Regions from separate parts of the Homo sapiens genome. Here region 2 is linked to region 1. The links come from fine-mapping of genetic effects on gene expression. Tissue or cell type: whole blood. Region 1 holds a variant in brackets; the other region holds the start of a gene. All regions are shown on one strand. Distances are between the middles of the regions.

Evidence for each region. PIP is the estimated chance that this variant, and not a neighbour inherited with it, causes the effect.
Region 2: KLF16 starts here. The variant in region 1 is fine-mapped to the expression of KLF16 in whole blood (INTERVAL, PIP 0.91).

Annotation. Positions count from the first base shown.
Region 1 is chr19:1,825,107-1,829,259 of GRCh38, forward strand. It overlaps REXO1 (RNA exonuclease 1 homolog), which reads right to left. Exons shown (of 16, transcript NM_020695.4): 2 at 1,772-3,525; 3 at 733-837. Among named protein-coding and RNA genes, the nearest start is that of MIR1909, 11 kb to the left of the region's middle. RefSeq lists a silencer at 2,102-2,237 and an enhancer at 3,363-3,863. The variant T/TGGA (reference allele first, on the strand shown) is at 1,915.
Region 2 is chr19:1,861,696-1,865,848 of GRCh38, forward strand. KLF16 (KLF transcription factor 16) reads right to left here and starts at 1,884. Exons shown (of 2, transcript NM_031918.4): 1 at 1,346-1,884. The coding sequence starts at 1,802. RefSeq lists enhancers at 1-312, 3,420-3,974, silencers at 1,127-1,296, 1,347-1,526, 1,857-2,956, 3,027-3,246 and a promoter at 1,773-2,977.

The DNA of each region.
Region 1 (4,153 bases):
CTGGCCAACATGGTGAAACCCCGTCTCTACTAAAGATACAAAAATTAGCCTGGTGTGGTGGTGGGCACCTGTAATCCCAGGTACTCGGGAGGCTGAAGCAGGAAAATCACTTAAGCCCGGGAGGCGGAAGTTGCAGTGAGCAGAGATCGTGCCACTGCACTCCAGCCTGGGTAACAGAGCGAGACTCCGTCTCAAAAAAAAAAAAAAAAAAAAAAACAACCAAAAAACAAACAAACAGAAAACAGAGGGATGAAGCTGGGAGCAGTGGCTCACGCCTGTAATCCCAACGCTGGGAAGCCGAGGCAGGAGGATCACTTGAGGTCAGGAGTTGGAAGACCAGCCTGGGTGACAAAGCAAGACCCCCTTTTTTTATAATTTTTTTTTTTTGAGACAGAGTCTTGCTCTATCACCCAGGCTGGAGTGCAGTGGTGCAATCTTGGCTCACTGTAACCTCTGCCTCCTGAGTTCAAGCGATTCTCCTGCCTCAGCCTCTCTAGTAGCTGGTATTACAGGCACCCATCACCATGCCCAGCTAATTTTTGTATTTTTAGTACAGATGGGGTTTTGCCATGCTGGCCAGGCTGGTCTCGAACTCCTGGCCTCAGGTGATCCACCCGCCTTGGCCTCCCAAAGTGCTGGGATTACAGGCGTGAGCCACCAAACCAGGCCAACCTCGTCTTTAAAAAAAAAAAAAAAAAAGGCTCCTGCTGGCCTGGCCTCTGCGGACCTTACCTCCTGGCCTTGCTTGGAAAGGTGGGAGATCCTCCTCTTCTGCCCGGGGAACAGAGTGGTCAGACCCGAAAGCCCCTTCTCCTCACTCTTCTCTTCCTTGGGGGGCTAAGACACATGTCCGTCCGTCAGCACAGGTCTGCCCTCGCTGCCAACACCAACACACCCCAACCTCAAACTGCCCCCGGCAAGTGGGGAATGGAACAGTCCAGCCCCCAGGCACAGCAGCTGAGGGCTCAGGGCCAACAGTCCCTGGGCTTTGTGTGGGTGCAGTCGGAGGGGTGGGCAGGTGTCACACGTTCTGCAGATGCCCAAGGCTACCTCTCCTGGGCACCCAGGGCCCCAGCTTGGAGACCCCAGGGCTGCAGAATGAAAGCACACTGGGAAAGCGAGGCCACCTTGGGCCGAACCAGCTGCTGCGGGCTGAGCACTTGGGCTCAGTCTGTGTGGAGTGAGCTCCCCCTGGTGGCCAATTTGGGGACACGGGGCCAGGAGACCCAGGGGTCCAGGGCTGGCCCAGGAGAGCAAGAGCTCGCCACGCTGGGAGTAGGGAGGAGGGAGGGGAGGAGAAAGGAGCCGGAGGGGATGAGGAGGAGGCAAGGAGAGGAGACAGAGGAGCTGGAAGAGAAGAGACAGAGATGGGGGAAGGGAGGAGGGGAGAAGAGAGGGGGAAGGGAGGAAAGGGGAGGCGAGGGGAGAGGGGCTAGAAGGGTGTGCCGGAGGTGGATTCCCCTGAGGTGGGTGGGTGGGCCAATATCCCCCTGCCAGTCAGTGGGAACAGACCGTGTGCACGTGGCCACAGAAGCCTGGCTGGTGGCCACGGGCCAGTGACCTCTGGGTGGGTGAGGGGCAACAGGAGCAACAGGGCTGCCCGGGTGCTCCTGAGCTCCTGAGATTTCAACGGGCTCAGGGACCAGCACTGAGGAGCTGCCTCCACCCCGTGCCTCCGAGCCAACTGGAAACCACTCCAGATAGAAGGTCTCTCACCAGGCCCTCGGCTCTGCCTCTGCCCGAGCCCAGCCCCAGCACCCGCGCGCCTCACCTGCCGGGCCAGCCGGCCTCTGTCCTCCGTCTTGACGCTGGTGGACTCGTTGAAGATCCGCAGGCACTCCTCCATGGGGTCGGAGTCAAAGTCCACCTCCTTCTCCAGGGCCGAGTAGTCCACATCCGCCCCCGCGCTGGAGG[T/TGGA]GGAGGAGGAGGAGGAGGAGGAGGAGGATGGGGCGGGGGAGGGGGGCGGGGAGGCCTTGAGCCGCTTGGGCGGCCCCTGCGCCTCCGGGAAGCCCAGGCTGGAGTCTGAGTCGGAGTCTGAGTCCGAGCTGAGGCTGGGGAGGGCAGAGGGCCACACGCTCGGCACCCCTGGCCCTGCGGCCTCGTCCTCACTCTCGTCCCCAAAGAGGTCGGCGTGGCTCAGGGCCCGCTTCTTCAGCTTGGGGGCGTCCTGGGAGGCGCCCTCGTCTAGTGAGCGGGCTTTCCGCTCCACTAGCTTCCCCGACGGGGCCTTGGTGCTCTTCCTGTCGGGCAGCTGGAGGGGGCGGGGTGGGCCTCTGCCGGCCGCCGGTCGGGAGTCCCCGCTTGTGGGGCTCGGCCGCCGCGCTGGCCGGTCAGGCCTCCCTTTCCCTGAGGTGGCCACAGGAGTGGCCGAAGATGGCTTCTTCTTGGTCCCTTCCGGCCGCTCTGCCTTGCGCCGGGGGCTGCTGGCCTGCGGGCCCTTCTTGTCCGCACGGGGCTTCTCCACAGGCCGCCCTCGGCCCTTGTCCTTGGTCTTGTCCTTCCCCTGGGCCCCGTCTTTGCAGCTGGGGGCAGGTGGGGCCCCGGTTTTTTTCTTCTTGGGTTTTCCCTCCTTGGGGCAGCCCCCATCCTGTGAGGACTGGACCTGGGCTGGGGAGGCGGGCTTGGCTGGGGGCGGCTGGAGGTCCCCCACGTCGCACTGCACGGCCGTCTCCTTGGTCTCCCGCAGGCCGCCCCCCTCGGCCTCCAGGCCCTCTTTGGAGGGTGGCTGCCCGGTGGCCTTGATCTCAGGGTCGGCCCTGGCTTTGGGGGTGCTGGCCGTGGTGGGCTCGTTACCTGGGACCGTGGCGGCCTCATCTTCTGAGTCTGAGAACCTTGCATCGCAACTGCCAAAGGGGTCACAGAGCTTCTTGGGAGCAGGTGTGTAGGGCTCACTGCCGCGGGAGCCCCGGGGCCGCTTGGCGGCCCGCTCATCCCGGGAGCTGGCCCTGCTGAGGTGCCGGGCCGAGTAGTTGGAGAGAGGGTCATACTCCAGGTCTGTGGGTGGCCTGGAGTTGTCCACCACGTACTTGCCACTGGGAACGGGGCGGCTGTGCCGCCGGGGCTGGCTCACAGCCTTGGGGACGTATTCCAGGGCACCGCCACCCCCTCCACCTCTGCCCTGACCCCTGTCCAGGGACGCCAGCGAGTACTTGCTGCCCGGCTCGGCAGGGGCGGCCAGTGGGGTGGGCTGGTAGCCGGCATCAGGGCTTAATAGGCCGTGGCTGCCGGGGCTGTAGTCGAAGGCCAGTGGGAAGGCATCCTCGTCCGGGCCCACAGTGGGGCTGGCGTTGGGGCCGCGGGGCGCCAGGGCGGGGGCCTCGGCGGAGCGGTGCTCACGGGTCGTCTCCAGCAGCTCCCGGTAGCGCCGCTGCTCCAGCTCCACCTCACTGCGCACGGCCTCGATGGCCTGGTTGACCAGCTCCAACTCCAGCACATCCGGGCGCGGCTCCTCCCCCAGGCCCAGGGTGCCATTCTCCCTCTGCGCGGGGGGCTTGGGCAGCTCAGGGTTGTAGGGGTCGTAACCCAGCCCTGAAGGGAACAGAGAGCACAGCTGTGACCAGCCTGCCGGAGAGGAGCCCGCAGCATGGGGGCGGCCCCGGTCTCAAACTGCAGGGAAGGGAAGAGACCTGCCTCCGAAACCCACCACGCACTGGCGCCCGCCAAGGCTCTGGGGTGCCCAGCTGGGTACAGGCCATGGCGCCATCTCAGGCCCTGTGCCGGGCCCCGCCTTGCCCTGACCAATGGGCGCTGGATGGGCCTGGGCTGCGTGACACACAGCTCCCTGGGTACTGGAGGCTCCCTCACACGGCTCATGAAATGCGCACAATGACCATGGTGGGGTGGACACTCGACAGGCTGGAACTCCCCGGGGCAGGCGGGTGTGGAGCTCCCAGCATTCAGGGTGCCGGGCTGAGGCAGGACTGGGCTGGGCCGACAACCACAGCCTGACGGTGGACACAGGAGAGCCCTTCCTCAGCCAACACGGCCCCACCCAGCCAGCAGTGTGCCCGCGGTGTGGCGGAGGTGTGCCAGCAGTGTGCCAGCGGTGGTGTGGTGGCGGTGTGCCTGCGGTGATGTGGCTGAGCAGGGCCGGGGGATGGGGACATGCCCAGTTGATGGGCCACCCTGCAAAATCCACAGGAAGATTTTTTTTTTT
Region 2 (4,153 bases), 37 kb after region 1:
GCAGAACAGAGAGGGGGCGGCCGGCAGGCTACACACCACCGCCCCCACCCGCCCTCCTGCTCTCCACCCTCAGGCGTCCCAGCGCGGCTCCCCATACCCCAAAGATGGACCCTCAATTCTTCCGCAAGGCATTCGCGGCCCCTGCTCATCTCAGCCCCACCACTCTGGACGGCCCACTTCCCTTCGGCTGCTCCACGTGTCCCTACAATCCGAGCCCACGGACCAAGCCTCCTTGGAGTGTCCAGCTGCCCAAAGCGGCCACCGCTATGGCTATGAAATAGAGGCAGCATCGCACTCTTGATAGAAATGAGAAAATTGAGACCCAGATCGGGTAGAGGTCTTCTGTTTGGTGGCAAGGCCAGAATGCCAAGCCCAAGGGCAGCCGCACAGCTTTCCCCCAGCCCCCCACCCTCCCCGGAAGGGACAAGCACCTCTAATGCCCAAACCAGGGCCGGCCATCAAGGCCCACCGTCCCCTGTTGCCCAGTCCAAACTCCCAGTCCAGAAAGTGGAACCCTAGGAGGGGACGGAGTGAAAAAATACAGCCAGGCCCACCAGGCTCCCGGTTCCCCTCGCCGCCCCGGGGACTGCGCTAGGAGGGGCGTTGGTGTAGCCGAAGCGCTCCAACTACGCGCACCTTCCCGAATCGCCCGCCAGGTAGGGGTGAACAAACACGCCAGGGAAATACAGCAGTGTGGACCCGAGCCCCTCGAGGGTCCTCCAATACTATGAAGTTCCCCCGCCCAGACTCAGGCCCCAACCCGCGCTCCTAGCCTCGCCCTCCCCCTCGTTAAAATACAGAGAACGCAGAGAAAACGTGCCGGGCTCCCCCCATCCTGGCCCCACGCCAGGTGCTCTGCCGACCTCTGGGGAGAATCCGCGCGGCCACCCCGGCGGCGGCGACGCGGTTCCTCCTCCATTTTCACAGATAAGGAAACTGAGGCTGGGGGAGGGGGAGAACCCAGAACCCCAGAGCCGGATGCTCCAACCACGGTGCCCACCGCCCAGACCAGAACGCAAAAGAAAAAAAAAAAAACGGAACAAGGCCCAGAAAGGGAGAGAGGTGGTCTGCCCAGGAGTCTCAATCCCGCCCGCAGACCTCGCTGGGCCCCCGGAGCCCCCGCCACTGCCGCCGGGGCGGCCATCCGCTCGCCGCCCGACCGCGTGGCCGCCACGCCCCCCGCGCGCGCCCCACCCACCGAGGCCCCGCCCTGCCGGCCGGCGCGGCGGCGGCCCGGGCGCGCCCCCCTCCCCGCCCCCCACGCGCCACGCAGTTTCGGGGTCCTGGCGGGGGAGGGGTCTCAGGCGGCCGCCCCCGCAAGGGCCGGGATCGCGGCTGCACTCACCTGTGTGCGTCCGCAGGTGCGACTTTAGGTGCGAGGACTTGTAGTAGGCTTTGGCGCAGTCCGGGAAGGGACAGCGGTGGCTCTTGGCGGCGGCGGAGGGCGCGGCGCCGGGGGCGCGGCCCGAGGACGGGGACGAGGCGGCTGAGGAGGAGGAGGCGGGCGAGGCGCCCCCCGGGGCGGCTCCGGGTCCGCCGCGCAGGTCGGCCAGGATGCTGGCGGCCAGCAGGTGGGGCGCCGCGGCGGCGCCGGGGCCCGGGCCAGAAGCGGCGGGGGGCGGCGGGGGTGGCCCCGGGGTCCCGGGTGAGGCGGCCTCGCGGCGCGCCGCGCGCACATCCAGGCCGGCGGCGGGGCCCGCGCCCTCGGGGCCGGGCCGCCCGCGGTGCACCACGGCGCCCGAAGAGATGGCCATGAGCACGTCGGCGGCGAAGTAATCCACGCACGCCACGGCCGCCGACATGCCGAGCAAGGGCGCGCGGCGCGGCGGGCGGAGCGGAGGCGGCGGGAGCGGCGTCCGTCCGGCCGGCGGCGGCTGCTCGAGTGCGGGAGGCGGAGGAGGAGGAGGAGGAGGCCCGGCGCGCGCCGCCGCCGACGCCCGCGCTCGGCCTGCCCCGCCCCGCCTGACGCGTCCTGACGCACCGGAGCCCGCGGGGGCGGCCACAGCCCGCCCCGCCCGGAGGACGCCCCCTCGGGGCGCCGCAGCCACGCCCCCCGCCCGGCGCGCCCTCCACCACTCTCCGAGCCGCGCGCGGCCGCCGGGGGCGGGGCTCGGGCCGGAGGAACCCGCCCCCCGGCGCGCCCACTCCGGCCTCCGCCAGCGCCTAGCGTCTTAGGCCCGGAGCGCGCCTTCTCCGCGCTAGGGTGCAAGGCCGGGAGCCCCGCCCCCTCCCGGCGCGCCCCACTCCAGCGCGCGCCCCCGTACCCTTTCCCGGAGCACCACCCCCTCAAGCCGGGGCGGGAGGCCGAGGACCCCGCCCCCTCTCCGGCACGCCCCTCCTTCCGAGAGCGCGCCCCGCCCCATCCCGGCACGCCCCTCCCTCCCAGAGCGCGCCCCGCCTCCTCGCTGGCGCGCCCACCCCACGCCGGGGCGCGCGGCCGGCGGGAGCCCGCCCCCTCCCCGGATGCTTCCCTCCTGGCCCCGGGCGCGCCCCCGTTCGCGATGGAGGAGGGCTCCGATCCCCACGTGGCCGGGGTTGGAGGGGTGCGGAAGCGGCCGGCCCCGCCCCCAGGCCACGTGCGCGACCCTTCCCCCCTCTTCTCCCGGCCTGGGGCCCTGCTTTGACCCCGCACTCAGGCATCTGCTCGTCCTCTTCTCTGGGGTTCCCCCTCGCCGCTCACAGAGCCCCTCGGAGCCTCCCGGCCGAGACACCCGGTATCCCGCGCCCGCGGCGGGGCCCGGGAGGGTGGGGCAAGGCTGCGTTCGTTCCTCTTTTTGCACCCAGTTCCGGAGCTACTAGAGCGCGCCCCACTGGGGGTGGGGAGGGCCGGTTGGGTCCCAGAGGGTCGGGATAGGGGGACGGGAAGAGGGGGCCGAACGCAAAGGGCTGGGCTGGGCTGGGGGCGCCTGAGCGGGTCAGAGGTTCCCCGCCCTGCTGGGACACCGGGGTCCGGGGCTTCTCTTTCCATTCCCAGGCATCGATTCTTGGGGTTCGGACGGGAAAACTGAGGCCAGGTATTCGGGCCTCCCGGCCGCGAGGACGTCCAGGCCAACTTGTTAAATATTAGGGGGGACACCAGGGACGCGGATGGCCCAGTTCGCAGGCCCAAGGCGGCGGGGGCACAGAAACTGGGCGGCCCCCCTCGGTCGCGACCGCGCTCCCGCCCCTTCCCAGCTCCGGCGGGGCGGCGGGGACTGCGCAGTGGCCGGAGCTGCCTCCAGGGGGCGGAGCTGCTTTGGCCTGCGGCGACCTCCTGCTCTGGGTTGGGCATGGACAGAGGCCCTGACCCGATTCGGGGCTTCTCTAGCCCCATCCCCCGCCCACCTGCAACCCCAGCTGACGCCCTGAGGCTGACCACTGTTCCCTGGGTCGCCCGCACTGCGCCTGGGCTCAACCATGCTTGGTTAAGCCAGCTGAGCCCTCCCTGGGCCCCAGTAAGCCCACTCTACGTGGCTGGACAGAGCGGAGCCGAGAGAGAGGAGGTTCAGCGAAGTGTGGGAGGGTACAGGGTGCCCTGCACACACTTGCCCCTCTCCTAGGCCTGGGCTCCAGAGCCCTCTCTGCACCCCTACCATTCGGTGGGCGCTGGGGGTCGGCGTTCCTGCTCCTGCTGGGCCTCTGTTGTCTTTGAACTTCTAGGACGATGGGCCACTTGGGCAGGTCCCCCAGGTCCCCACCATCCCAGCAGCCCCCAGGGTCCTGGAACCCCGCATTGGCTTGTGGACAGGTGTGTCTTGAGGCCTCAGGGTCCACACCCAACCATGCGTCTTCCACTGATGTTTCCTGGGCTTAGAGCAGAACCAACCAGCCCTGCCCTCAAGGGGCTTACAGTTGTAACTGGGAGGCTAACGATGGGGGGCAGGGGTGAGCAGCCTCCAGGGGTGGGCCACATGGCCCCAGGCAGGACCTTCACTGTGAGACTCCATTGTCTGCCCACTCCAGCCATTATCAGGGTTTCAAGTGAGTGGCCTCATCTGCAGGTCATGCCAGCCACTCCACAGGCAGGAGACCCCAGGTGAGGGCACACAGCCCACACCCCACCCATGAGGCTTCTATTCACACCCCTAAGCCCCAGGAACACTCAGGCAACCCATGACCCCTGCGGTGAACACAGACAAACCTCCAGCAGCGCCCGGCACAGGGCTCTGTCCTC